4 linked regions of the Homo sapiens genome follow. The protein of the gene in region 1 interacts with the protein of each later gene in a pairwise test. Each region holds a gene or a part of one and is shown on either strand. Other genes may lie near its edges. The genes, in order: ASCL4, GTF2B, DR1 and RNF11.

Region 1 (6,470 bases):
CCCACAAATTTATGACAATTAAATAGGACAAAATGTAAAAAGCCACAACAAAATTCCTAGCACATAAAAGATGTCCACTGAAGATATAGCCTGCCTTAGTTGCTACAACTGTAAAAGGGGGTAATAAAATCTAAGTGAAATCTACCTGGAGGATGCACTTCCACTGTTAGTTCTCTTTGTCCATTTCCATTTCCCCTCCTTCTTCCCCCACAAACCAAAGCTGCCTCCATGGAAAGGATAATTCGGCATATTAGAAAACAATCTTAGGGAAGTTGATCTTCATACATCAGCAGGCATTTAACTTATCTACTGAACTCAAAATTGTTTCTTAGAAAAAAAATGACCCAAATTCAATATTTTAAAAAGGCTTTTAACATGGCCAAAGTCACTACATCATTTCCATATACTGTACCTGGAAGCCCTAATGGTGATAAAAATATTTGAGAATGTACCAACTTCAATCCATCCGTCTTGTCCCATATCTTTCCCCCATCTGGCTCAACCCGCAAAAAGGACTTCCAAGTAGATTTCTTTTTTATTTTTAAAGTCACAGTGCCACTTCAGTTTATCCAAAACTTAGATGGAGAGCTACACGTTGGGGGGCGGGGGGTATGCAGAGAAAAGGAAAATGAAGAAAACAGTGGACAAAACAATTGAGAGGAAAAACAAGTTTTCATACAAATCTGGGCTCTCTTCCAAAGAGATCATTAATTCTAAGATATTTTACTATCTGCTCAATGCTACAAAGCTTCCACGTGGCCACTGGATGAAACAGTGTGTACCAAGCCACGGATTCCCTGGCACCATCATTCACACAGTCAACAACAGCACATGCTGGCAAATTCGTTCTCAAGTACCAGCTTACAGTCTCCTTCACCCAAAGCAGGAGGTCAACAATTACTTTCCATTACATTTTGAATACAATTCCCGAAGGAAGGAATGCAAGAAAATGTTCCTCTCATTTTTAAGGACTGTTTTTGGCTGTTTGGGGTTGTTTCTGTTTTGGTGGCGGTAAAGTTCTTCTTTGGTTAAGGTTTAATGTTTATGTATACCATTTACCCACACCACGGAAGGTGGGAAATTCCAGTTGTTCTCGCCCTTTGAGTTTTTAGAATAATCGTATTTACAATGAGGTGCTCAGAATCTGAAACAGTTTGCATTTTAGAAGTATAGGAAAAGAGTCTCCTTAATAAGCACCTATAAGTTGCAGGCACGTAACCAATAAGGGCAGGGGAGAAATTCCCAAATGTCAAAACAACTCCCCCATCCCCCAAACCCCAGCACCCATTTCTTTTTCTTAAGATTTAGGCCTGGAGAAGATGCCAGATTAAGAATGCAAACCACCTTCGAAGAGGACCTTAGGTTGAGCGCCCGGCTGCGCGCTGTGCGGCGGGCGCGGGGGTCCTGGCCAGTTCGGGCGCTCGCTAGCTGCCCCCCTCCTCGGGCTCGCTGCTGGGCGAAGGCGCCGAAGAGGCCTTGGACTCCCCGTCGCTGTTGCATTCCGCCCTGCGCTGGGGGACGGCGCCGGCCGCGCCCTCGAGCCCCCAGGCCTGGCGCTCCAGCAGCTCCTGCAGGTGCTTGATGTAGTCGATGGCAGCGCGGAGCGTCTCCACTTTGCTGAGGCGCTTGTCTGCCAGCTCCCGGGGCAGGTGGTCTCGGAGGCGCGCATAGCCCTCGTTCACGCAGCGCACCCGCTGCCGCTCGCGCTCGTTGCGCTTGCGGAGGAAGGCGGGCTCGAAGGCGCTGTCCAGCGGCACGGGCAAGTACTGCCATCCCCGTGCGCAGCCGCTGCGCGCCCACTCCCAGCACGCGGCGTCCAGACGCAGGGCGACCCTGAGGGGGTCCCTCCGCGGGAGTCCGGGCAGGGTCCCCGGAACGCCCAGGGGCGCGGTGCGCAGCGAGTATGGCAAGGCCAGCCGTTCCGCCGGTTTACGCGTCTCCATCATTTGCCGGAAAGCACACAAATCACTCAAGAGGTCAATCTCTCAATAGAAGAAGACGAAACAGAATCTTAGAAGCAGAGGTGCTGGTGCAGACTGCCTGGCTCAGTGGGTCTGTCTTTGCAGAAGTTTCTGGGTCCAGAAGTTAGGTTCCTGGACAGGCTTCAGGGAAACGGTGCATGATTCCTGAAGTTCATTGCACTCCTCGATCTTTTTATGATTTAGGCAGAGGTGGTAGGCAAAGACGTAGGATCTCCTAATCCACACTTCAAACCCCGTCTTCCCCACTGATCTTCTTTCAGAAGATAACAAAGGGGGTTCCTCTGCCTGGTCCCCCAGCCTGGAAAGGTGAGCTCACACCAGAGTCATCTTCCAAAGCCACCAAAAGCTTTTCAATGCCTGTAATCCACCACTCTAGGTCTTCAAGAGATGAGTCGTTCGCCAAGAGCCTAGCAATCTTCAGGATTTGAGAAGAGCTCCTCCCAGGAACCTGCAGATCTGGCGGCGGAGGGAAAGTGGACCAGAGGCTTTCTCCTTGAAAATCACTTGACTGTCCTTTGTGGTTTCCCGCGACCAGGTCTAATGGAAGGAGCTTTTAGAGTGTTTGCAAACTTAAACTTGCTCTTTCATTTCTGGGGTCTTAGCCTCATCAAAGGAAAAACTGCTCTCTTGCGGTTATAAAATGTGTCAAGTCAAGGAAGACCCGGGGCGAGGCTTGAGGTTTTTCTTCTTCCAAACCGAATCTTTTAAAAACTCAATGAGGCATGTTTGAAGGGTATAGGAAAAATACAGACTGTAGCAAAGAATATAAGGGTCTGCATATTATGTTCCAACATATGTTGTTTTATGGTTGTTGAGGGTGTTTTATGGAGATGCGACTTTTTAAAAGCACATCAAAAGACTGAACAATAACAAACGCGCTTAGCCGGTTATTTCTCACAGTGCTTACTGTAAACACAGCTTAAATACTGCTTCCCAGCCTCCTCTTCTAATCTCACCCAGGATATAAGGACATCATCTTTCCATAGCGCAAAGAGTGTTTTTCCATTGGATTCTTCTTCTTTAAAAAATGTCATTTATTTTCTCTCTTGGGGGCAGGAAAGCAACATTTGAAAGGTGGAGACTCCAAGTTCCAAGGAGAAAGGATGATGTCTTTGAAGACTTGTCTTTTTAAGACACAACCCCTCCAAAATGAATAATTAATCCATCCGTGTTGGTAAACCTTTGAAGATTAAAGTGTCATTAAAAATCCAACTGTACTGGTTAACGTCAAAGAATATGTTATCACACTGAAAATCAGATTTCCTCTTCTGCAAACCAGTACATTAAAGGTGTCTTCTACTTTAAAAGTCCTACTTAAAAACAAGAGAAGCAAAAACCCCCTACATTTATGATGAGAGCTTTTGCCTATTCCTCAGCAGACAAGGTGCTGCCCTAACATGTTTTTCTTTTTAGTTTGGCAAGTCCTGTTCTTCCCTGTTTGTTCTAAATGATCCGCCTGAAGCAACTCAAAAAACAAGGCAAATAAAATAGAAATAATTATTCCTTTCGGGTATAAGTTAGTCACATTTTTAAAGGTGTAGCTTGGCTGGGTGCAGTGGCTCAAGGTTGTATTCCCAGCACTTTGGGAGGCCAAGGCGGGTGGATTGCTTGAGGCCAAGAGTTCAAGACCAACCTGGCCAACATAGCAAGACCCCCATCTTTTAAAAAGAAGAAAGAAAAATTAAAAGTTGTAGCTCCTGATGAGGTTTGTACTGGCAAATAGCCTAATATATCATCACAATTTCTCAGTAGAATTGAGAAAGCCCTTTCTATTAGGAGAAAAGTCCACCACTCAGGCAGGTAGGCTGTTATACCACAAGGTGCTTTTTGGCCATGTCAAAGATTTTAACTTTTAAGAGTGACAGGAAGATAATGAAATATTTTAAGCAGGGAGGTGACATTTGAAGATTTGTGTTTCAAAAAAGATAACTGTGTCTGCAGATTGAGGACTAGATTGGAAGAGAGCAAAAGGAAGAACAGTTGAGATGCCATTTCTCCTTCTCAGATTGGCAAAAGTTTAAAAGATTGCTAAGATTCAGGGGAGGCAAGGATTTGAGGAAAGGGTGGGAGCATAAATTGCTTCAAGAAACTATTAAAATTATTATTATTATTATTATTATTATTATTATTATTATTTTGAGACAGGTCTCACTGTCACCCAGGCTGGGGTGCAGTGATGCGATCTCGGCTCACTGCAACCTCCGCCTCCCAGGCTCAAGGGATCCTCCTATCTCAGCCTCCTGAGTAGCTAGGACTACAGGCTTGTGCCTCCACATCCCAGCTAAACAAACTGTTAAAATTAATAGTGCACATCACATCCTTTGATTCAGATATCTGTGCCGTTTTGTCCTACCAAAATAAATGTAGCAATACCTATTTATGTGTACAATAATCTTTATTGCAACATTTGTAGCAATTTAAAAAAACGAAGACTCCAGGCAAGGTGGCTTATGCCTGTAATCCCAGCACTTTGGGAGGCCAAAGTGGGTGGATCACTTGAGGTCAGGAGTTCGAGACCAGCCTAGCCAACGTGGCGAAACCCTGTCTCTACTAAAAATACAAAAAATTAGTCAGGCGTTGTAGCAGGTGCCTGTAATCCCAGCTACTTGGGAGGCTGAGACAGGAGAATCACTTGAATCCTGGAGGCGGAGGTTGTACTGAGCCAAGATCACGCCACTGCACTCCAGCCTGGGTGACAGAGCAAGACCCAGTCTCAAAAAAAAAAAAAAAAAGGCGAGGCTGGGCACAGTAGCTCACGCCTGTAATCTCAGCACTTTGGGAAGCCGAGGTGGGAGGATCATGAGGCCAGGAGTTCAAGACCTGCCTGACCAGCATGATGAAACCCCATCTCTACTAAAAATCAAAAAAATTAGCTGGGCATGGTGGCACATGCCTGTAGTCCCAGCTACTTGGGAGGCTGAGGCAGGAGAATTGCTTCAACCTGGCAGGCAGAGGTTGAAGTGAGCTGAGATAGCCTGGGCGACAGAGCGAGACTCTGTCTCAAAAAATAAATAAATAGATAAAGAAGAAGAAGAAAAAGGGAACAGCCTGAACAGCCTGAATGTCCATCAATAGGAAAAGAGTTAAAAATCTTAGAATATTATGCTATTATTAAAAATAATGAGTAAAATCTGTACGTAAGAACTTGCAGACATATCCACAATGTCTTAAGTGAAAAAAGCAAATTGCAGAGTAACATATGCAGCAGGAACATAAAAACAATTCTACATGATGTGTATGTCCTTTATATGTGTTTCTGTGAGCATGGAGAATGAAATAGAAAGACACATACTAAATGGTTTTTTGCATTGGTTGCCTAAAAAGAAAGGGTGGCATTGGGGAGGAAGGGGGGATGTTCATTTTTCTTTATAAATCTTTCTACTGTTTAACTTGTTAATACCAACACTATTACTTTCTTATTTTTATAACCCAGTGAAACTTAATAAGATAAAATGTGTAGAAAGTTCAAATGACACCCCCTGATCTGGCCCAAACCAACAGATTTACCATTAGAAATTAGAACTCTTAGACCAGGTTTTCTGGCTCCTTGTAAATTCTGTCTCTGAGGACGAAGTATCTACAAGACTTTCTCTCTCTCTCTCTCTCTCTCACTGCTAATACCACAATCAAAATTGGTCAAGGCCGGGCGCGGTGGCTCATGCCTGTAATCCTAGTACTTTGGGAGGCCAAGGCAGGAGGATCACCTGAGGTCAGGAGTTCAAGACCAGCCTGACCAACATGGAGAAACCCCGTTTCTACTAAAAATACAAAATTAGCTGGGCGTGGTGGTACATGCCTGTAATCCCAGCTACTTGGGAGGCTGAGGCAGGAGGAGAATCACTTGAACCCAGGAGGCGGAGGTTGTGGTGAGCTGAGATCATGCCATTGCACTCCAGCCTGGGCGACAAGAGCAAAACTCCGTCAAAAAAAAAAAAAAAAAAAAACTGGTCAAATCCTGATCCTACAGTGGTCTTTTTATAGGATCCAAGTAATATAATGACCTAACTGCATGGTCACAAAGAATGCTGACAGAGCCTTTCCTAAAGAACAAAAGCATTGAAAATAAGTGGCTTTTCCAGTAGGAATAGGACTGTTTTACTCACATGATGTGCAGGGTATGGGGTGGGGGTTACCTTCTTTACATAAGAGATCAAAAGAAGAAGTTTTGACTCCTGATTACTCTCCAGTCAGTTTTGACCCAGATAAACATTCTCTCCAACCTAAAGCTGTCCTAAGGCTGGCTAGATCACGTAACACATATGCTAACCTGCCAAGAGTAACTGGGCTGGGTTTGTGTAGTCCTATTTGGGTCTGCTCATGAAAGGGGGCAGATGGGCAGGTATATTTTAATCCTTTCCTTCTAGCTTTTGTCTTTTCTCCCCTGTTTAAGGCTACCTTCTCCTACCGCAAGTTTTACAAGGCCTCCTCTTGTCTATATAACACCTTGGTGTGAATTATGAAGAGGCACCAAACTCAAGGCTTGGAGAA
Region 2 (7,031 bases), on another chromosome or scaffold:
ATGCTGTTGGATTCTGTTTTCTAGTATTTAATATTTTTTATCATATTTCTAAGTGAAATTAGACTGTTTCTTTTTCCATTGTTTTGTCAGGTGTTTGTATCATATTTCTATTTATACACTTTAAGCTTCCTATTTTCTATGTTCTTGAACAGTTGTTAGAATTACATGTTCATTTAGTATAGATGAGCAGGATGCACAATTCAGATTTCTGGTCTATGTAGAATCAGATCTTGTAAGCTATATTTTCATAGAAATTGTCCATTTTTCATGCTTTCCAAAAAATTTTTTCATAGTTATAAAACTGTTTTATAGGGCACAGGAGCTGCAAGTTTTGACGAATTTGGCAATTCTAAGTACCAGAATCGGAGAACAATGAGCAGTTCTGATCGGGCAATGATGAATGCATTCAAAGAAATCACTACCATGGCAGACAGAATCAATCTACCTCGAAATATAGTTGTAAGTTCTTGTCTACCTCCTTTAAGCCATTCTGGCATTGACTTTGCATAATTTAATGAACACATGAAATTTTGATATTGCAGCTAATTAAATGACGTAGAGTTAAACTTAGTTTCTCTGCTTTGAAGGATCGAACAAATAATTTATTCAAGCAAGTATATGAACAGAAGAGCCTGAAGGGAAGAGCTAATGATGCTATAGCTTCTGCTTGTCTCTATATTGCCTGTAGACAAGAAGGGGTTCCTAGGACATTTAAAGGTAAGTTTTTAGCTTTGTTTTTTTGTGTTTGTTTGTTTGTTTGTTTGAGATAGGGTCTCACTTTGTCGCCCAGGCCAGAGTGCAGTGGCGCAATCTTGACTCACTGCAACCTCTGCCTCCCAGGTTCAAGCTATACTCCTGCCTCAGCCTCCTGAGTAGCTGGGATTACAGGCATGTGCCACCACACCTGGTTAACTTTTGTATTTTTAGTAGAGACAGGGTTTCGCCATGTTGGCCAGGCTGGTCTCAAACTTCTGACCTCAGGTGATCTGCCCACTTTGGCCTCCCAAAGTGCTAGAATTAACAGGCGTGAGGCACTGTGCCCATCCTAAAATAACATTTTCTACATCATATTAAAGAAACAGACCAATGTCAGGCAGCTTTGACACTTAGAAGCTAAGTCATCTTTATTGTGACTACAGTAATCCACTTGAGCATCATTTGCCAATGCCTACTTATTTCATTCCTTGACAGCAAATTCATAGCATGTTCTTTTAGGCTGTTTTCCCATGTAGACTCATTTTAGTCCACGTAAGCCCACTATGTTCTTTTCTAGTGAGATCTTTTGATGGACTGTTGCTTTGTGGGCTTTCAGAAGGCCTATAATCGTAAACCAAAGTAGGCCGTTTATACATTTGGTTTACATGGAAACAGTTTCCATTTCTAGCACTGGTCTCTGTAGATGAGGGAGTCAAGCTTTAGAAAGTATCAGTGAAGGCCAGGTATGGTGTCTCACACCTGTAATCCCAGAACTTTGGGAGGCCGAGGTGGTTGGGTCATGAGGCCAGGAGTTCAAGACCAGCCTGGCCAATATGGTGAAACCCCGTCTCTACTAAAAATACAAAAATTAGCCAGGCGTGGTGGTGCGCGCCTGTAGTCCCAGCTACTCAGGAGGCTGAGGCAGAAGAATCGCTTGAAACCGGGAGGCAGAGGTTGCAGTGAGCCGAGATCACGCCACTACACTCCAGCCTGGGCGACAGAGTGAGACTTCATCTCAAAAAAAAAAAAAAAAAAGTTATCAGTTAAGTTTTTTCTCTTGAGGTGTATTGTTTGCACTTTTACACTTCAGTTAAGAACTGGTATTTTTCATTTAGTTTGCAGTTACATGTGAATATGTGATAATTTGTTCAGTGTTGCTCACTGACTTCCACTACCAAAGCTCAGTTTAGCTGAAGACTATACTTAACCCTTTATTCATCCAGTGAGTATTTATTTTTTATGTTTTCTTACGTAAAAGTGAAGAGGTGATGGCCTTTATCATCATCTTTTTTGTTGTTTTTATAACTAAAACAACTTTTGTTAAATTTCTTCTGAAAGTGTGTGGTGGTTGCATCTGGGAATAGCAGGGTCAGATATTTTATCTCATTGAGCTACAGCCCATAATCGCAGGGATTTCATGCACACATGACATTGTGTTGCCTAAGAGGCATCCTTTAGCTTGAGTATTTTCTTTCAATTCCTTGGTAACACTGCTTACAACAGATTAATACATAAACATCAAAGAATTTTTCATTTAAAGAAATTTAGTTGTATGAATTAATCCTTAGAGCAGTTAATATTTTGAAAGATTAAGACCTAAATTTAGCCAGGCACGATGGCTCACACCGGTAATCTCAGCACTTTGTGAGGCCGAGGCAGGTAGATCACGAGGTCAGGAGTTCAAGACCAGCCTGGCCAAGATGGTGAAACCCCATCTCTACTAAAAATACAAAAAATTAGCCGGGTGTGGTGGCAGGCGCCTGTAATCCCAACTACTCGGGTGGCAGGAGAATCGCTTGAACCCAGGGGGCAGAGGTTGCAGTGAGCCAAGATGGTGTCACTGCACTCCAGTCTGGACGACAGAGTGAAATTTCATCTCAAAAAACAAAAAAACTCTAAATTGAAAGAGTGAAGAACATTAGGCCAGGCGCAGTGGCTCATGCCTGTAATCTCAGCACTTTGGGAGGCCGAGGTAGGAGGATCACCTGAGGTCAGGAGTTCTAGACAGGCCTGGCCAACATGGTGAAACCCCATCTCTACTAAAAATACAAAAGTTAGCCAGGTGTGGTGGTGCACGCCTGTAGTCCCAGCTACTCGGGAGGCTGAGGCAGGAGAATCACTTGAGCCTAGGAGGTGGAGGTTGCAGTGAGCTGAGATCATGCCACTACCCTTAGTCTGGGCGACAGAGTGAGACTTCATCTCAAAAAAAAAGGTGTGATGAACATTAAAGTTAACTGAGAAATTTGCAGTTAACTCTGTGGGAAGTATCACTGAGATGATTAGGGTTTCATCTTTAAGGTATGATTGAATGTTTTACAATTAGAATGTATATTATGTTTATAATTAGAAATGGTAGATTTTAAGATGAACTATATGGCTTAAGTGAATTGATTTATTTAATTTTTTTTCTTTTAGAAATATGTGCCGTATCACGAATTTCTAAGAAAGAAATTGGTCGGTGTTTTAAACTTATTTTGAAAGCGCTAGAAACCAGTGTGGATTTGATTACAACTGGGGACTTCATGTCCAGGTTCTGTTCCAACCTTTGTCTTCCTAAACAAGTACAGATGGCAGCTACACATATAGCCCGTAAAGCTGTGGAACTGGACTTGGTTCCTGGGAGGAGCCCCATCTCTGTGGCAGCGGCAGCTATTTACATGGCCTCACAGGCATCAGCTGAAAAGAGGACCCAAAAAGGTAGGGTTCGTCATCAGGAAGTGTGGCAGTAAACTGAAATTTGCAGCATGTGATTGTTTTTCCATTTTAAGTCTGAACCGGGTAAATAGCAAGAAACCCACATTTGACCAGGCGCGGGGGCTCACACCTATAATCTCAGCACTTTGGAAGGCCGAGGCGGGAGGATCACCTAAGGTCAGGAGTTCGAGACCAGCCTGATCAACATGGTGAAACCCCATCTCTACTAAAAATACAAAAATTAGCTGGGTGTGGTGGTGGGGCTTGTAATCCCAGCTATTCAGGAGGCTGAGGCAGGAGAATTGCTTGAACCTGGGAGGTGGAGGTTACAGCAAGCTGAGATTGTGCCATTGCACTCCAGCCTGGGCAACAGAGCAAGACTCCATCTCAAAAAAAAAAAAAAACCCACGTTTAAGACATCATTCCTCAACGTCAAAATGTTAAGAAAATATGTTTTGCTTTTTAAGCAGCTCATAAAAAAAATGTTCAGAGACATAACCCTGTGAACAAACCTAATTTTTTTCCCATTTGAATTATTTTAGTTTGTACATCTTTTATTCTTACAAGTTCTTTTTTCTCCCTGAATATATTCCTCCTGATCATTTTGAATACTCTTTTCCTTTCCAAACTTACCTTTTTAAATCTTAGGGGTCAGGGAGGCCATGCTTTGTTTCTCACTGCTTGGCATGGGATTCTACAGATAGACACACTGTAAAATACGTGTTGGCCATCAGCCTTTAACATTCTGTGAAGGTTGGTTTTTTCCCATTTTGCACAGTATTTTACAGTTTCTTAATACAAATTCTGAAATAAGTAGATGTAAGTAATTCAGCCTTCTAAAGCTATGTTTAAATTTAGTGTTGTAGGAAAACTTTCACCAGAAGTATTAAGTGAATTTCTTTTCCTTTTTTTTTTTTGTTTTTTTTTTTTTTTTTTGTTTTTGAAACAGTCTCCCTCTGTTGCGCAGGCTGGAGGTACAGTGGCACAATCTCAGCTTACTGCAACCTCCACCTCCCGGACAAGCTATTCTCATGCCTCAGCTTCCTGAGTAACTGGGACTACAGCCACGTGCCACCACGCCCAGCTAATATTTGTATTTTTAGTAGAGATGGGGTTTCACCATGTTGGGCAGGCTTGTCTCGAACTCCTGGCCTCATGTGATTCGCCTGCCTCCACCTCCCAGTGTGCTGGGATTATAGGCACAAGCCACCACACATGGCCCACTAACTCCCTTTTAAAGTTAGAAGTGACTACTCCTTTCTAAGTCTTTGAGGATTACAGAAGTTATTCATGAACAAATGCATGTAAAGAAATTCATAAACTAGGTGCGGTGACCAGCCTCCTGGCCAACATGGCAAAACCCTGTCTCTACTAAAAACACAAAAAAATTAGTCGGGTGTGGTGGCACATATCTGAATCCCATTTAGTAGGGAGGCTGAAGTAGGAGAATCACTTGAACCTAGGAGGCAGAGGTTGTAGTGAGCTGAGATCATGCCACTGCCCTCCAGCCTGGGTTGATGGAGTGAGGCTCTTTTTCAAAAAAAAGAAAAGTTGGTGGCAGGTCGCGGTGGCTCACCTGTGTAATCCCAGCACTTTGGGAGGCCAAGGTGAGTGGATTGCTTGAGGCCAGCAGTTCAAGACCAGCCTGGCCAACATGGCAAAACCCCATCTCTACTAAAAATACAAAAATCAGCCCAGCATGGTGGTGCACACCTGTAGTCCCAGCTACTCGGGAGGCTAAGAGACAAGAATCTCTTGAACTTGGGAGGCAGAGGTTGCGGTGAGCCTAGATTGCACCACTGTACTCCAGTCTGGGAGACAGGACTGTCTCAAAAAAAAAAAAAAAAAACAAAAACAGAAAGTGAATTACTGGCCTCAATAACTTTGTAATACTTTATTCACAACAGCCTTCAGCTTAGGCTATATGTTGAAAAAAGTAATAAATGATAGGAATAATTAGAGAAAGAAAGCCAATCATTAGTTATTTGAAGGAGCCATTATCCATTCCCTTTGGCCTTCACTCACGTTTTAAGGAAATTTTGAGTCTTTTAGTAAAATTGAGAAGTTGCAGCTAGGCAGTTTGTCCTTGAGGTACATTCCTAGTTGTAAAGTTTATTCTAATGAACAACATGAAAACATTAATCTTGTTGCTTTCTGCTTTTTGGCTTTATATGTAAAGTCTTCTTCAAATGTAAGGTCTTTCTCTTCCCTGCACAGCAGGCAGTTGACATTCAAATAGTTGGCATTTATTGGTATTTAGATGTAGAATAATGTAATGCAGTGTGAGATACGGAAATTTAAAATTAGCTAATTGTACAATGATGGCAGGCATTCACAGTGAAAATCACTAAAACCTCACTGATTTGAATCAACTGAAAAGGTAGTAAAATGAATTTGTATTAAAAGGTGTTTAGGCCAGGCGTGGTGGCTCATGACTGTAATCCCAGCATTTTGGGAGGCTGAGGCAGGTGGATCACCTTAGGTGAGGAGTTTGAGACCAGCCTGGGCAGCATGGTGAAACCCTGCCTCTGCTAAAAATACAAAAATTAGCTGGGCATGGTGGCAGGTGCCTCAGCTACTCAGGAGGCTGAGGCAGGAGAATTGCTTGAACCGGGGAGGCAGAGGTTGTAGTGAGCCGAGATCTTGCCATTGCACTCCAGCCTGGGTGACAGAGCAAGATTCCATCTCTAAATAAATAAATAAATGATGCTTAAAAATCCATTTTAATAAAGCATTCATAATACTTAACCAAACATTGTAGTGGCAGTCCTTTAGTATTTCTTTTAATGACTTTGAAAGGAAAAAAGGGACAGCGACTTTAAAGGGTAAAAGTGGATCTGTTAGGATTCTGTACAATGTTCGTTTGAGCTCAAAATATTTAAGTATGTGCTTGTATCAGTGAAAAACATCTCCGTATGCTATAATAAGTAGCTGTTTGATCTCTGATGTATTAAGTAGAAAAAAAGATTGTAGAACAATATTTATAGTATCACATTTTGTTTTTAATAAGGACCCCTTAACAGAAGTTAGCTAGGGGAGATTTTGCATGGGAGCTTTCAAACACAGAAATATAAAGTGAATTTCTTTACAAGAACATATTTGTGGAGTACTTTTGTGATCCTCAGAAAGATTTATAAAGAAAAAGGAGGAGTCAGTTGTAAATACAATACCCAGTATAAGATGATAACACTCCTAATACTAAGACCTGAACACTATTCATATATTTTATGTTAGTTAAACCCTTTAAAACATTGACAACCCTGTAAGGTAGTAAGTACTAGTAATCATTTTTATTGTTGCTTGTTACTGACTTTAGCTCCCACTTTTTTTTTGAGACAGTATTTGGTTAAGTATTATGAATGCTTTATTAAAATGGATTTTTAAACATCATTTATTAATTTATTTAGAGATGGAATCTTGCTCTCTCGCCAGGCTGGAGTGCAGTGGTGCGATCTCGGCTCACTGCAACCTCCTCCTCCTGGGTTCAAGCGATTCTCCTGCCTCAGCCTCCTGAGTAGCTGGGACTACAGGCGCATGCCACCACGCCTGGCTAATTTTTTGTATTTTTAGTAGAGATGGGGTTTCACCATGTTGGCCAGGATGGTCTCGATCTCCTGACCTGGTGATCCACCCGCCTCGGC
Region 3 (7,031 bases), on another chromosome or scaffold:
TTGAAGAGAGAAACAAAATCTTCAGCGTTCTTGAGAAATAAAATTATTGTTCAGTAAGTATTTTTCCATCCCCTTGAATATATGTTATATATTCTTTTTCGGCAGATTATCAGATTAGTAAGTGTTTAAAAGGCATCAGTTTTTAAAACTGCATATACCACACACACACAAAACAGTACACAAATAAAGGTTTTCACAAATTAAACAAACTCACATACTAGTCTTCAGATCAAAACACAGAGCATTATGTGTACCCCAGAAGCCCTCCTCTTTCCCCATCTTAACACTGTCTTCTTTCTTGCTGAAAGTTACTATCCTGACTTCTAAAATCATAGATTAGTTTTGCCTGTTTTTTATTTTATGTAAATGTAATCATACATAATACACTTTTTTTCATTCATCATTTTTGTGAATATTTTAGTTTCTTGTTGCCACTGTAACAAACTACCACAAACTTAGTGACTTAAAACAACACAGATTTATTCTTTTATAGTCCTGGAGATCAGAAGTCCAAAAATCAGTTTCATTAGGCCTAAATCAAAGTATCAGCAGGGTTGGCTCTTTATTGAGGTTGTGAGGGAGAATGTTTTCTTCCCTTTTTTGGCTTCCAGTGACGGCCTGTATTTATGGGCTTGTGACCCCTTCCTCTCTATGATCAAAGCTTGCTTTTGTCATTATATCATCTTCTCTTCTGTAGTCAGATCTTTCCCTGCCTCTAAGTTTAGGGCTCACCTGCATAAAGCAGGGATAATCCCCCTATCTCAAGATCCTTAATTTAATCACATCTGCAGAATCTCTTTTGCCATATAAGTGACATTCACAGGTTCCAGGGATTCATACGCTGGCTATCTTTGGAGGCCGTTATTCAACCTGCCAAAGTGAGATCCATTCTTATTGTTGCATGTATTTGTAGTTCATTCATTCTCATTGCTGTATAGTCTTCCGTTTGTTTATCCATTTTTCATTACATCCAAAAGTTATTCATTCTCCCATTAATAGTCTTTTGAGAATTTTTCAATTCTGAGCTATTATGAATAGTACTGTGTAGAACATTCTTATACATGTCTTTTGGTGAGTGTATACATTTCCATTGAGTATAAACCTAAGAATGGAATTGCCAGGTTGTAGGGTGTGTATATTTTCAGTTTTAGTATTTACTGTCAAACAGTTTTCCAAAGTGACTGTAAGAAGGCACCATTTTAATGTGTAGCATAAAAATGAATTACGCTAATGATCTTAGTGGGTTGAATTTCTCGAAACACCTAAATTGTACCAAATGAGTTATATTGCAGCAGGTATGTTGTTAATTTCATATAACAGGAAAATAAGAGCAAAAGTAATTGCCCTTATTAACTGACACATTAGTATTACATACTCATTAGGTTATTGCTCCTTAGAAAAAATGCAAATTTTAAGTAATCGTAAGTAGTATGTTGAATTAGTATGTTGTGGGAAAATCTGTGATTTAATTTTTTAATTGAATTTTAAATTTTGGGTTATAACCTCATTAAAATGCATGATATTTCCTTATATAGGTTTCTAAATTATGTCTGTCCAACTCATCTATATCCAAATGGCCATTAGGAAGAATTATCCAATTCAGATGGCATAGGCACTGCCTTCCAATTTCTTCATTTGTATTTTTTTGTTGCTGTTTTCTTTTTTGCCTCTGTCCCCAACAATTTGACCACAAGTCCTACCCCACCTCCTCTGTTTTTCACCATCCCCCAGGATATAAAGTGTCATGGTTAGGATCGGCCAGGGTGAAGAGAATGATAACATAAGTAGCCTCCTTTCACCTAAAGTATTACCACTGGTTCTTATCCTATTTCCTCAAAATAAATGAGAAGAGAAAGTAAGGAATAAGAGGAAGAAACTTTTTTTTTTTTTTTAAAGAAACAGGGTCTCACTATGTTTCCTTTTTCTTTTTTCTTTTCTTTTCTTTCTTTTTTTTTTTTTTTTTTTTGAGACAGAGTCTTGCTCTGTCACCCAGGCTGGAATGCAGTGGCGCGATCTCGGCTCACTGCAAGCTCCGCCTCCCGGGTTCACGCCATTCTCCTGCCTCAGCCTCCTGAGTAGCTGGGACTACAGGTGCCCGCTAGCACGCCCAGCTAATTTTTTTTGTTTTTTTTTAGTAGAGACAGGGTTTCACCGTGTTAGCCAGGATGGTCTCGATCTCCTGACCTCGTGATCCACCCGCCTTGGCCTCCCAAAGTGCTGGGATTACAGGCGTGAGCCACTGCGCCCGGCCTATGTTTCTTAATATAGATTGCAGTGGCTAGATTACAGTGACTATTCACAGGCATAATCATAATGCACCATAGCCTCAAACTCCTGGGCTCAAGCAATCCAAAAGGAGGAAACTTTTAACTTATGATCAGTTTCTACCATAAATCAAGCAACTTAGAAAAACCTTAGAACAGGGTTTCTCAAACCAAGCATTGTTAGTATTTGGGGTTGGTTAAGTCTTTGTTTGTGGGAGCCTATCCTGTGCATTGTAGGATTTCTAGCAGCATAATTGGCTTATGCCCACTTGATGTCATTAGCACCACTCCCCACCCTACTTCCAGTTGTGACAACCCAAAAATGTCTCCAGACATAGCCAACTGTCCCTGGGTGTTGCGAGTATAGGAGGCAAAATTGCACCCTGTTGAAAACCACCACCTTAGATCATCTAGGTTTTACTTTTAGGATAAGACACTTGAGGGAAAGGCTGTGAAACTGAACCTCTGTTAGAAGCAACACACAGTATCACTGCAAAAAGACTAAAAGAAATAGGTGATTTGGAAAGAGGAGGCCCAGGATTAAAATATGTTTCCAAGAAAGTCAAATCTTACAGGAGACTCTTGACTTCACATCTGCTGATCCCTTTACCCGATAGGACCTAGAGCAGCCATTATAAATCTCTGTACCTGCTTGCTGCTTTTCTACCTCATTGTTAGCCACACCCAGTTTGAAACAGATGAGGTATGCTATTTCATAACTAGTACATCTTTTAATAAGCATTTTTTATTGTGATTAAATATGCATATCGTAAAATTCACCACTTTAACCAGTTTTAAGTGTTCAATTCTGTGGCATTAAGTATATTCATACTATTGTGCAACCACCACCACCATCCGTCTACAGAACTCTTCATCTTCCCAAACTGAAATTATGTATTCATTAAACAATAACCACCCATTACCTCCTCTCTCCTCAGCCTCTGGTAACCAGCATTCAGTCTCTATGAATTGACTACTCTGGATATCTAAATGGATTCATTCTTATTTCATTTACCATAATGTCTTCAAAGTTCATTCATGTTGTAGCATGTATTAGAATTTCTTTCCTCTTAAAGGCCAAATATGCCGTAGTATGTAAATACCGTATTTTGTTTATCAGTTCATCCATTAATGGACACTGGGTTGCTTCTGCTTTTTGGCTATTGTGAATAATGCTTCTGTGAACGTGGGTATACAAATAACTGTTTGAGTCCTAATAGGCTTGTTATTTTTGAGTGCACAGATCTGTATATTCGCAATTGAAATAGGGAAAGTCTTTATATTCATATAAAGATAATTTATAATACAATAAGTCCTCAATGTTGTTGATAGGTTCTGGGAAACTGCGAGTTTAAGAAAAACAACATATAATGAAATCAATTTTACCATAGGTGAACTGATATAAATAAGAGTTAAGTCCCTATGGCATATATTTCTGGTTACAAAAACACTACCAAATTTCTAATAAAGACCCAAAACACTTCTAAAATTAAACATTGAGATTAATATGAGCTTTATATACATTTAAAAAGGATAAAAACAAGTAAGAATTGGCTGGACATGGTGGCTTACGCCTGTAATCTCAACACTGGGAAGTCGAGGTGGGCAGATGGCTTGACCTCAGGAGTTCGGAACCAGCCTGGGTAATATGGTGAAACCCGTCTCTACAGAAAAATTCAAAAATTAGCCAGAGGTGGTGGCTTGCACCTGTAGTCCCAGCTACTCGGGAGCCTGATGTGGGAGGATCCCTTGAGCCTGGGAGGTCGAGGCTGCAGTGAGCCATGATCACGCTACTGCACTCCAGTCTGGGCAACAGAGCAAAATCCTATCTCAAAAAAAATATATATATTATCCAGCCCCAAATGTTTATGGGGTTGTTATTGATAAACCCTGCATTAAACAATCCCACAGTCGGTGCTGCGGTGAGCCGTGATGGTACCACTGCATTCCAGCCTGGGTGACAGAATGAGACCCTGTCTCAAAAAAAAAAAAAAAAAGTAAAAATTATTTACCCAATATTTGGCGAATCAGTGAGTGACAGCAGTTGTAGTGCTAGTGGGTTAAATCAAGGAATAACTGTTGGGAAGTGAAAATTTTAAGGAGCACCTCCTACCACCATGCAGTTCAAAAACAAAAAATAAGAAATAAAGTGGGCTTGCTGAGTGCTTTCATACTGCATCATTTATTGTGCATTTGTATGATTATTATATACTTTACAAATTTTCGTTTTACAGTAATTTGTATTCATTCGTTTTTCAACCTGCTTATTTCAGTTCAGTGTCTTGGGTAGCTGGAGCCTATCCCAGCAGCTCAGGGAGCAAAGTGGGAGCCAACCCTGGACAGGATGCCTTTTCATCACAGGGCGCACTCACACGGCACACACACGCATACTGGGACCATTTAGCTGTACCAATTCACCTAACGTGCATCTTTGGGAATTGAGAAGAAACCAGAATACCCAGAGAAAACTCATGCAGATATGTGGAGGACATGCAAAATTCACACAGACAGTGGCCCTGGTTGTAAATAATTGTTTTTCATCAATGTTATAATGAAATTACAGGCCGGGTGTGGTGGCTTACGCCTGTAATCCCAGCACTTTGGGAGGCCGAGGCGGGTGGATCACGAGGTCAGGAGATAGAGACCATCCCGGCCAACATAGTGAAACCTCATCTGTGCTAAAATACAAAAAATTAGCCAGGCTTGGTGGTGTGCACCTGTAGTCCCAGCTACTTGGGAGGCTGAGGCAGGGGATTTCTTGAACCCAGAAGGCGGAGGTTGCAGTGAGTTGAGATCGCGACACTGCACTCCAGCCTGACAACAGAGCAAGACTTCGTCTCAAAAAAACAAACAAAAAAAGAAATTACATTAGTTGAGGACCTGCTGTATGTGATATGAACAATGAGGATCAACTCTTTTTGTAATAGTTTTTTTACATATGTTATTTCATTTGTTTATTTCCTCTGTGAGGGTAAGTATTGATAGTCCAGTCATAGACTGGTAACACAGGCACACCATTAAAAATAATAGACATACAGTATGCAGTATTTTGTTTTACTTATGAAACTCCGTATTTTATGTATGATGTATTGAGTATGAAGAATAGTACATACTGTTTCCTTTTAACTTTATGTTTCTTGCCTTTGTATATTTTATATGAATAGCACTTGTCACTAACATAGAAAGCAGTAGAGGTGGAAGAGGGAGACTTGCCAGAATAAGTTTTTAATGTGAATCAGAGATTTTTATTAGGAATTGGGAGTGGAAGGAGAGAGATAGTATTAGAAAGTATGTATGCAGCAAAGGATGGAGAAACTGTCCTTGTTGTTAAGGCATCTAAGGATGCTCCAATTACTGGGGAAAACATACCAGGCTCAAAATGGTCTGATTATGCAAATACCTTCTAATACGTTTGTTTCTTTTGTTGTGCCTATAAAAGATGCCATTAACTTCATATTTATGTCACTAATAAACTTCTAGAATCCATGTAGTAGGGTGTAGTAGTGTGGTTAAGCTATGAAGAACAATGGTATTTATTTCCAAAACACTTATTTGGTATATTACATAGGATAGAGTATGTTTTCTAAGCCAAATAGTGTTAGGTTTTCATGTGCAGTTGCCTTACACATATACTAGTAGCCCTTACAAAATTTCGTCTGTCTTTATTATAAACATGTTGTAAGTGAGGAAACTAAGATTCCAAGAAATTAAGTACTGTTGGCCCTCTGTGTCTGGGGGTTCCACATCTATAGATCGACCAACCATGGACTGATGGATTGAAAACATTTGGGGAAAAAACAAAAAATAACCCAACAATGAAATAGTATAAATTTTAAAAATAATATAACAATATTTATATATCATTTACATTATGTTAGATATTATAATCTAGAGATGATTAGCATCCTTGGATTTTGGATTTTGGTATCCTTGGGGTATCCTGGAACCAATCCCTGGCGGATACCAAGGGATGACTGTAATATAATAACATCTAACAAGTGAAGGATTTGAACCCCAATGTAAGTAATTATGAAAACTATTTTTCTTCCACTAGAACTTTTTTCCCCAAAAATACTCTGGAAATACTGGAACAAATACTAAAATAAATGACCTTTATTTGAAGATCTTTTAAAAAAATTATAAGCCTGCCTGAGGATAGCAAAATTGTGTGCTTTTGCAAGGTAATTGTAGAACTCATTCTAAGGAAGCAGAGGTAATGTCTGTTACTATTTTCAGCTCCCTTTTTCTGTCCACTGTTGTCTAAATGATTCACTCAGTGTTATGCAGAATATGAGAAGTTATTTTATAAAGTTGATTTGTGGTATAGGCTTTACATATGTCTTTTCTTTTGGTCAAAATACTAAAGAAAGCTTATAGAAAAAGTGACCTGGTGTCAGGTTTTAGTTTCATCCTTATCCAAATGTTGCAGAATTTTGGAATCTTTTGGAGTACACTTTCTCTTTAAAACAAGCCCATCACCTTTAGTATAGTGGTGAGTAAAAATAAAATAAAAACAAGGCCAAATTGCGTTTTTCTAAATTGCAAGTTCCCTGTTTTCCATATCCCAGTAACAAACCTACTGTTGTGCAAATAGGAAATAACATCTAGTAGCTACTTTAGCAATGGACGTGGCAAAATAAATAAATTAGTAGCTATGGCTCATTATTTAGGATTTAAATGAGCCATAACTACTATAAATGAAATTGAAGATCATGTTCTTAATTTGAAATTAAGGATCATGATCTCATTGGTACTGATGAGTCAGCA
Region 4 (6,706 bases), on another chromosome or scaffold:
TCAAAATATTTATTTATTTTTCATTTGTTTTCAGCTGGGGACGAAACACAGTAGCTTTGCAAATATAAAGTGGGAGCACAACCTAGCACTGGCGTTGGAGGTCCTCAAAACAGTCCCCAGGTTTGGTGATTCAATAGGAGGGCTCTTAGGACTTAGTATATAATCTTACTCACATCTATGATTTGTTACAGCAAAGAATCAAAGCAAAATCAGCTAAGGGGAAAGGTGCTTTGGTCTAAAGGGAACTAAGCACAAGCTTCCAAGAGTTATCTCCTAGTGGAGTCACACAGGACATGCTTAATTCCTTCAACATATATGAAAGGTTTTCTGCCAGAGAAGCTCATTTGGAGACTCAGTGCCCCAGGTACTGATTAGGCACCCACTGCCTAGCATATGACAAAATTCCTGATTCTCAGAGGGGAAGCAGGTGTTGAACATAAACCATATAGTGTTCGCAGATAGGGAATGGTGGGAACCACCCCCAAATCCATATCTTTTTTTGTTGTTAAGATGGAGTCTCTCTCTGTTGCCCAGGCTAGAGTACAGTGGCAAGATCTTGGCTCACTGCAACCTCTGCCTCCCGGGTTAAAGCAGTTCTCTTGCCTCAGCTTACTGAGTAGCTGGGATTACAGGCGTGCACCACCACGCCCAGCTAATTTTAGTATTTTTAGTAGAGATGGTGTTTTACCATGTTGGCCAGGCTGGTCTCGAACTCCTGACCTCAGGTGATACGCCTGCCTCGGCCTTTCAAAGTTCTGGGATTACACGCATGAGCTACCATGCCCAGCCATCACATCTTTTAAAATTGTTGTTTTTATACCCCTGTCTAATCTTCTACTCACTCAGTGTCTGTTAGCCAACAATTGAATCAGGATTCCATTTTGCTGCCTAGAAAATCAGTGGCTGTCTAGTTATGAAACAATTGATAACTCAGATATCAAGCCATTTTAAAACAAGTATCATGGGAATTAAAATTTAAAATTAGGCATGTGTGGTAAGAAGGGTGAGGCCACATTCATCTTTAAAATATCAGGAGGTCTTAGTCATTTCCTTTCCTCTATGGTTTTCTGAACCATGTAAACTGAAATTAGATTGTTCAATCATTTTAAATATCTAAAAGATATAGAGAGGGTTCCTTTGTTTTAACAAAAAAATACCAAAGGAGAAAATACACTCATAACGTGAATTAAAATATAGTTTTTATTTTCTTCTTTAATGTTTATTAATGTTTCCCCGTAAAGTAGAACTTTCCTTTTCTGTTCTGCTTTCTGTGTTCTCTACACGTATGTGAACCACAAGACTGAAGAAATCTAGCCTCTGAAAAACCCATAGTTGGAGTTTATTTTCTCTAAAACAATTTAGTTATTTTTGTTTGTTAGGTTCAAGGATTTAAGAGACCCTTTATATTATCTTAGTCTTAAACCAATTTGTTCCCAGTTTGCGTGTGGATGACAGCTCATCAAAACTGGTCAACTAGGACTGAGGCTAAGATTCAGGAAGGTAATTTAGACTGGAAATGGTAATTCAAGGGTTGAAGAACTCAGAGCTGGCAGAGATCACAACAGAGTCCAAGAGTTTGTAGTATTCAAAGAGAAGCCAGAAAGCCAGGACCAAAGCCAAGGACAGTAGCACTTAGCTTAAAGTCTGCAAAGCAGAGAATCATGATGGGGAGAATCATGACGTTGGGGAGATGTTAGAATAATTTACAAATATTGGCATTTACAAAGCTCTTAGTTATCTCATGATTATATCAACTCTTTAAAGTGGGTACTGTTATCTGCTTTATTCAAAGACATTAAGAGACTTGGTCCAAGCAATCACAGTAAGTAGCCGAGCTGAGACTGAAATCTTATAATTTAATTCTTCAGACTGAAAATCTCATCTTCTGAGATAGTAGTGTTTTTCAGACTGCTCTGTTGATTCTGAGGATTCTGCAAAGGTAACCAAGGTGAGGGCTTGGGGATGGGGAGCCTCATCCCTTCTAGGCCACACTCCATCCCAGCTTCATTCCATCAGAGTTGCTCAGTTTTAAATATTATTATAGGCCAGGCACCATGGCTCAACCCTGTGGCCCCACTACTCAGGAGGCTGAGGTTGGAGGATTGCTTGAGCCCAGGGGGTTGAGTTTACAGTAAGTTGTGTTTGTGCCACTGCACTTAAGCCTGGGCAACAGAGGGAGACCCTATCTCAAAAAAAGGTGGGGGTTATACACACGATTCCTTTGAATTGTTTTGTTGTGTAAAAAATCAGTTGGATTAGGAGCAGCAGAATTCTAATTTCAGTATTGTCAATTAGTGACTGTAGGCAAGCTTGGTCCTATGAAATGGGAAAGTTAGTCTTAGATAACTTTTAGATTTATTTTTGCCATAGTCCAGTCCATTTAAAAAGTTTTAAAAATTATTTTTAGAGATGAGGTCTTGCTATGTTGTCCAGGCTGGTCTCTTATCATGTGGAAATAGTTCATTTAACATTCCATGCCAGTTCAGTGAAGTCTGTGTTTATATCCTTTAGGCAGAATGAGAATGTTTTGGTGTGTGTATGTTTTATTCTAGTAGCTGAAGTTAAGGCAGGGTGAAACACAGTCATACAGCCAAACACTAGCCCAGCTTCCTACCCCTCCCAGGGCTCCCTTTCCCTTCTATCTCTGACCAAAAAATAAGCCCTCGAAAGGTTTTTAAAAAATAATCTTTTTCCTCTATATTTTAATATTTTAGGAACAAGTTCCAGTTCCAGTCTACCACCCAACACCTAGCCAGACTCGGCTAGCAACTCAGCTGACTGAAGAGGAACAAATTAGGATAGCTCAAAGAATAGGTCTTATACAACATCTGCCTAAAGGAGTTTATGACCCTGGAAGAGATGGATCAGAAAAAAAGATCCGGGAGTAAGTTTTAATTAATTTGTACATTTCAAAGTTTTATTTTCAGATTGCTTTTGAAAAATTTGCCTTTTCTCCTGCACTTTAGAAAGTCAGACATTTAATATATTGAAACACTTCGCTTAATGCAAGAGAATGTTTAATTTTTTTTCATAGCTCTATTACTGGCTACTAGCAAGAGAATGTTATGTAGTAATTAAGAATTTTCACAGGCCGAGCACAGTGGCTTATGCCTGTAATCCCAGCACTTTGGGAGGCTGAGGTCGGGGGATCACTTGAGGCCAGGAGTTCGAGACCAACCTGGCCAACATGGTGAAACCTCATCTCTACTGAAAATACGAAAATTAGCCAGGCATGGTGGCACGCGCCTGTAATCCCAACCACTTGGGAGGCTGAGGTGGGAGAATCACTTGAAACTCTGTCTCAAAAAGTAAAATAAAGTAAAATAAGAGAAAGTTAGTGTTAATGAAGAGAGCTTTAACTTACAGCAACCCAGTAAGTAGGCTGAAGTTAGTGTTTCTGTTTTTACAGTTATTAAAATGAAAATTATCTTACTCTAGGATTACTCTAAATAGCACAAGGAAACAAAGTTGCCCGAAGTTAGTGTTTCTGTTTTACAGTTACTAAAATGAAAATTGTCTTAGTCCAGGATTACACTAAATAGTGCAAGAAAACAAAGTTGATCTAACTGATGCTTTTCTACCTAAAATAATCCCATTCTCCTTCAGGTATCTGCTATAATATGTAGCTGTTTACAAGCACAGCAGTAGATTTGATGCATATGTAATCCATTTCTCTTTGCTCTGTTGATTGCTCCTAAGTCCTGCAAATTCTCAGGGGATTGAAATAAGAGACTGTGGACAGATCAACATTAGGAAAAAATTCAGTTTGCATGCTTTGGCAATAAGATGACAGGCAAAGCATTCTGATGTGTTACTCAGATTAACACTGTCTTTAATGGGATTTAAAGAGTTTTCTGAATAGGACACTTCTGAAAATGCCTTCTGATTTCTCTCCATTGCTCTCAACAGGTGTGTGATCTGTATGATGGACTTTGTTTATGGGGACCCAATTCGATTTCTGCCGTGCATGCACATCTATCACCTGGACTGTATAGATGACTGGTTGATGAGATCCTTCACGTGCCCCTCCTGCATGGAGCCAGTTGATGCAGCACTGCTTTCATCCTATGAGACTAATTGAGCCAGGGTCTCTTATCTGACTTCAAGTGAACCACCATTTTGGTGGTTTTGATCTTTTGTCACTGAGCCCAAAGAGCCAGGGATTAGGAATTAAGATCGTGCACAAAAGTTTCCTTAAAATTCCTGGATGGCTGCAGATGTTGGGGGAAAAAGTACGTGATATTTTAGAAACTTAGTGGGAAAAGTAGGATGGTATTTTTATGTAAAGCCTTGACCCAATGTTTAAAAATATAATTGTATTTAGATCTTGTTATTGCTCCAGTACATAGGAATTGTGTAAAGTGTTAACAGCAGCTGTATTTGTTTAAATTGTGTGTATTGAAGATTAGGAAAAAGATAGTAGTTATTTTTCCTAAATGAAATAACTTTCTTCTCTTCCCCTTCCCCACCCGAATTCTTTTCTGAAGTTGCTGGCATTTGGGTCAAGGTTTTATTAAAAGCTACATTTTATAACACTGGCACACACAAAAAAGTAGTTTTAAGCTTGTTTGCACAGTTCTTTTTTTCCATTGGAAATGGAATTCATTGCCTTAGGTCTTTTTAAATAGTGTATTATTATCGTTGGGGCTGGCTCTATGCTTGAAAACCAGTTTATTTATAACCTGTTATAAGTGCTATATTCTGTTTGCAGTTAGGAAATGCAGAATTCAAAGTGATCTCCTAGCTTGTAAGCAAACTGAGATGCACTATCCCTTTTCTATAAAAAATAAGTTAATGTGTCAAGAAACCAACTCTATTAAGGTGGGGTTTAATATTACCCTTTCCTATGTGTTTTATCTAATTATTTTGGTTGTTAATATGGTGATAATGGAAAGTCAAGTTAAATTTTAAATATTAAGAATTCTGATTTATTGAGATTGAATTATGCCACCACGTTTATGTAAAAATGAAGGTGGCACCGTGGTGAGACCTAATGAGAAATAGTTACTCAGTTGTAAAAATTTTGATTTATTCTCTTTCTTCTGACCTCCTTGCCTCTTGTCTTGAACCATAGCAAAAGGATACTGCATCTCTCATTACTGTAGTGCTGAGGTTATTGAAGTTATACAAAACACATCTCAGTCTCTGTTTCTTGGAAAGGTATCTATTACATCCTGCTAGCTGACTGACAAAACTAAGCAGGGAGAATAAAGATAATTGTATTTTATGTTTTGCACACAAACGCAGAATTTGTATAACCATATGACTTCATAGTTGTGATCTCAAAAAAGAAGGAATTTCTCCTTTGTTTCTTGCAGTTAATGTAAGAATACTTTAAATCTCTAAGCTTCTGAAGTGTTAGAGGTAGAGATGGTCTAGTAAAGATGTAGTAGTAATGTTTTATCCATTTAGCATGTGTTTATTTTTTCATATGTACTCAAAGGTGACTTATTGGTTCACCTCAGTGATATTACAGCTAAAAAAATCATTCATTAGCAAAAGGAAAAGTGGTCTCAACCTAACATCAGAAGTGTTTCTTATTATTATTTTATATTGAGTTGAATATTGAACTCTAACAGTTTTCTACATACAAAACACAGTGTCATGAAGGTTATTCATAATTGCATTATAGAGGAATGTAGTATGTCATAAGTACTTTGTAAAGATTTGACATTCAACTGTAGTATCCATATGTTGCTTAAATTTCCTTATGAGCCCCATGATGGAAAGACTTAAAGATGAATTTGAGAAAAATTGAAAGAAATTAGATTATCAGGTTCTGTTAAATTGTTACATGTATCTTGCTTAAATTTCTGTTTATTAATTTATATCCACCCAAGTACATAAAGCAAATTTGGAGGAAACAACTGAAGTTGTGCAATATTTTCTGATAATTGCTTTTTTTATTCTTGTGTTTTCTACTTAAACATAATGTCTGTGTCATCAAGTATTATAGTCAGACTTTTCTTTTTTTCTAGATTGTTAAAATTGGCAAATGAACTTTTTTAAAAATCATCTTCCATGTTGCAGTTAGTCTTTCTTTTCATTACAAGTCTTTCACAGAAGTTTGGTGGTAATATTGAAAGAACTAGCATTGGGCAGAATGTGTCTTTTTTAGGCACTTTATATTCTCAACATACAATGTTAAGAACCATCAATTTTGACTTTTACTAAGTTGTTAAATAAAGTTATAATACAGCTGTGAAGGGCTAAAGTTAGAGTTGATTACATAAGTAAGTATTCCCCATATAATCTTTTAAAAAGTTGTGTATGATTATTTTAAAATCTCTCTCTCTATATATACCTGTGGGAAGTATTTTTTATTGTTTGGCATTTAATATCATTTAATCATATACTTAGGCTTGATAGCACCAAAGTTTCTAAAACCAAACAATAGCTATAATCTCTTGATTTAGATATGGGCAAGATATGTCCAAGCTTGGCTGTGGGATTTGAAATTTCTAAAAAGCCTAACCAGGAAGAAACAAAAGAATCTTATCCTTTTGAGTGTAAAACCTAACAAGTTGAAATACTTTCAGATATTTGTAGTTTACCTAACACAAACTTAAAAAATTCTGTGAGTTTCTTGATAGGGAATCTCCTCAGTCGGTACTAGAAGACTCGCCCCCTGCTATTGGTGTTTATCATGTGATATAAAACAGTATGATTTCATGCAATAGTAAGCATTGAGATAACAGATCCCCTG

What was found.
Region 2: the proteins of ASCL4 (region 1) and GTF2B interact in binary tests that used the Homo sapiens proteins (3 or more experiments, as listed by UniProt).
Region 3: the proteins of ASCL4 (region 1) and DR1 interact in binary tests that used the Homo sapiens proteins (3 or more experiments, as listed by UniProt).
Region 4: the proteins of ASCL4 (region 1) and RNF11 interact in binary tests that used the Homo sapiens proteins (3 or more experiments, as listed by UniProt).

What each region holds. Positions count from the first base shown.
Region 1 is NC_000012.12:107,770,692-107,777,161, reverse strand, and holds ASCL4 (achaete-scute homolog 4), read right to left. Parts: upstream 2,459-6,470; 5' UTR 1,944-2,458; coding exon 1,425-1,943; 3' UTR 518-1,424; downstream 1-517. UniProt on the Homo sapiens protein: Could be a transcriptional regulator involved in skin development.
Region 2 is NC_000001.11:88,853,568-88,860,598, reverse strand, and holds part of GTF2B (transcription initiation factor IIB), read left to right. Parts: intron 1-312; coding exon 313-459; intron 460-587; coding exon 588-717; intron 718-1,811; exon of another isoform or gene 1,812-1,918; intron 1,919-3,111; coding exon 3,112-3,393; intron 3,394-7,031. UniProt on the Homo sapiens protein: General transcription factor that plays a role in transcription initiation by RNA polymerase II (Pol II). Involved in the pre-initiation complex (PIC) formation and Pol II recruitment at promoter DNA.
Region 3 is NC_000001.11:93,362,906-93,369,936, forward strand, and holds the end of DR1 (protein Dr1), read left to right. Parts: 3' UTR 1-6,588; downstream 6,589-7,031. UniProt on the Homo sapiens protein: The association of the DR1/DRAP1 heterodimer with TBP results in a functional repression of both activated and basal transcription of class II genes.
Region 4 is NC_000001.11:51,267,242-51,273,947, forward strand, and holds the end of RNF11 (RING finger protein 11), read left to right. Parts: intron 1-2,714; coding exon 2,715-2,884; intron 2,885-3,909; coding exon 3,910-4,081; 3' UTR 4,082-6,206; downstream 6,207-6,706. UniProt on the Homo sapiens protein: Essential component of a ubiquitin-editing protein complex, comprising also TNFAIP3, ITCH and TAX1BP1, that ensures the transient nature of inflammatory signaling pathways. Promotes the association of TNFAIP3 to RIPK1 after TNF stimulation.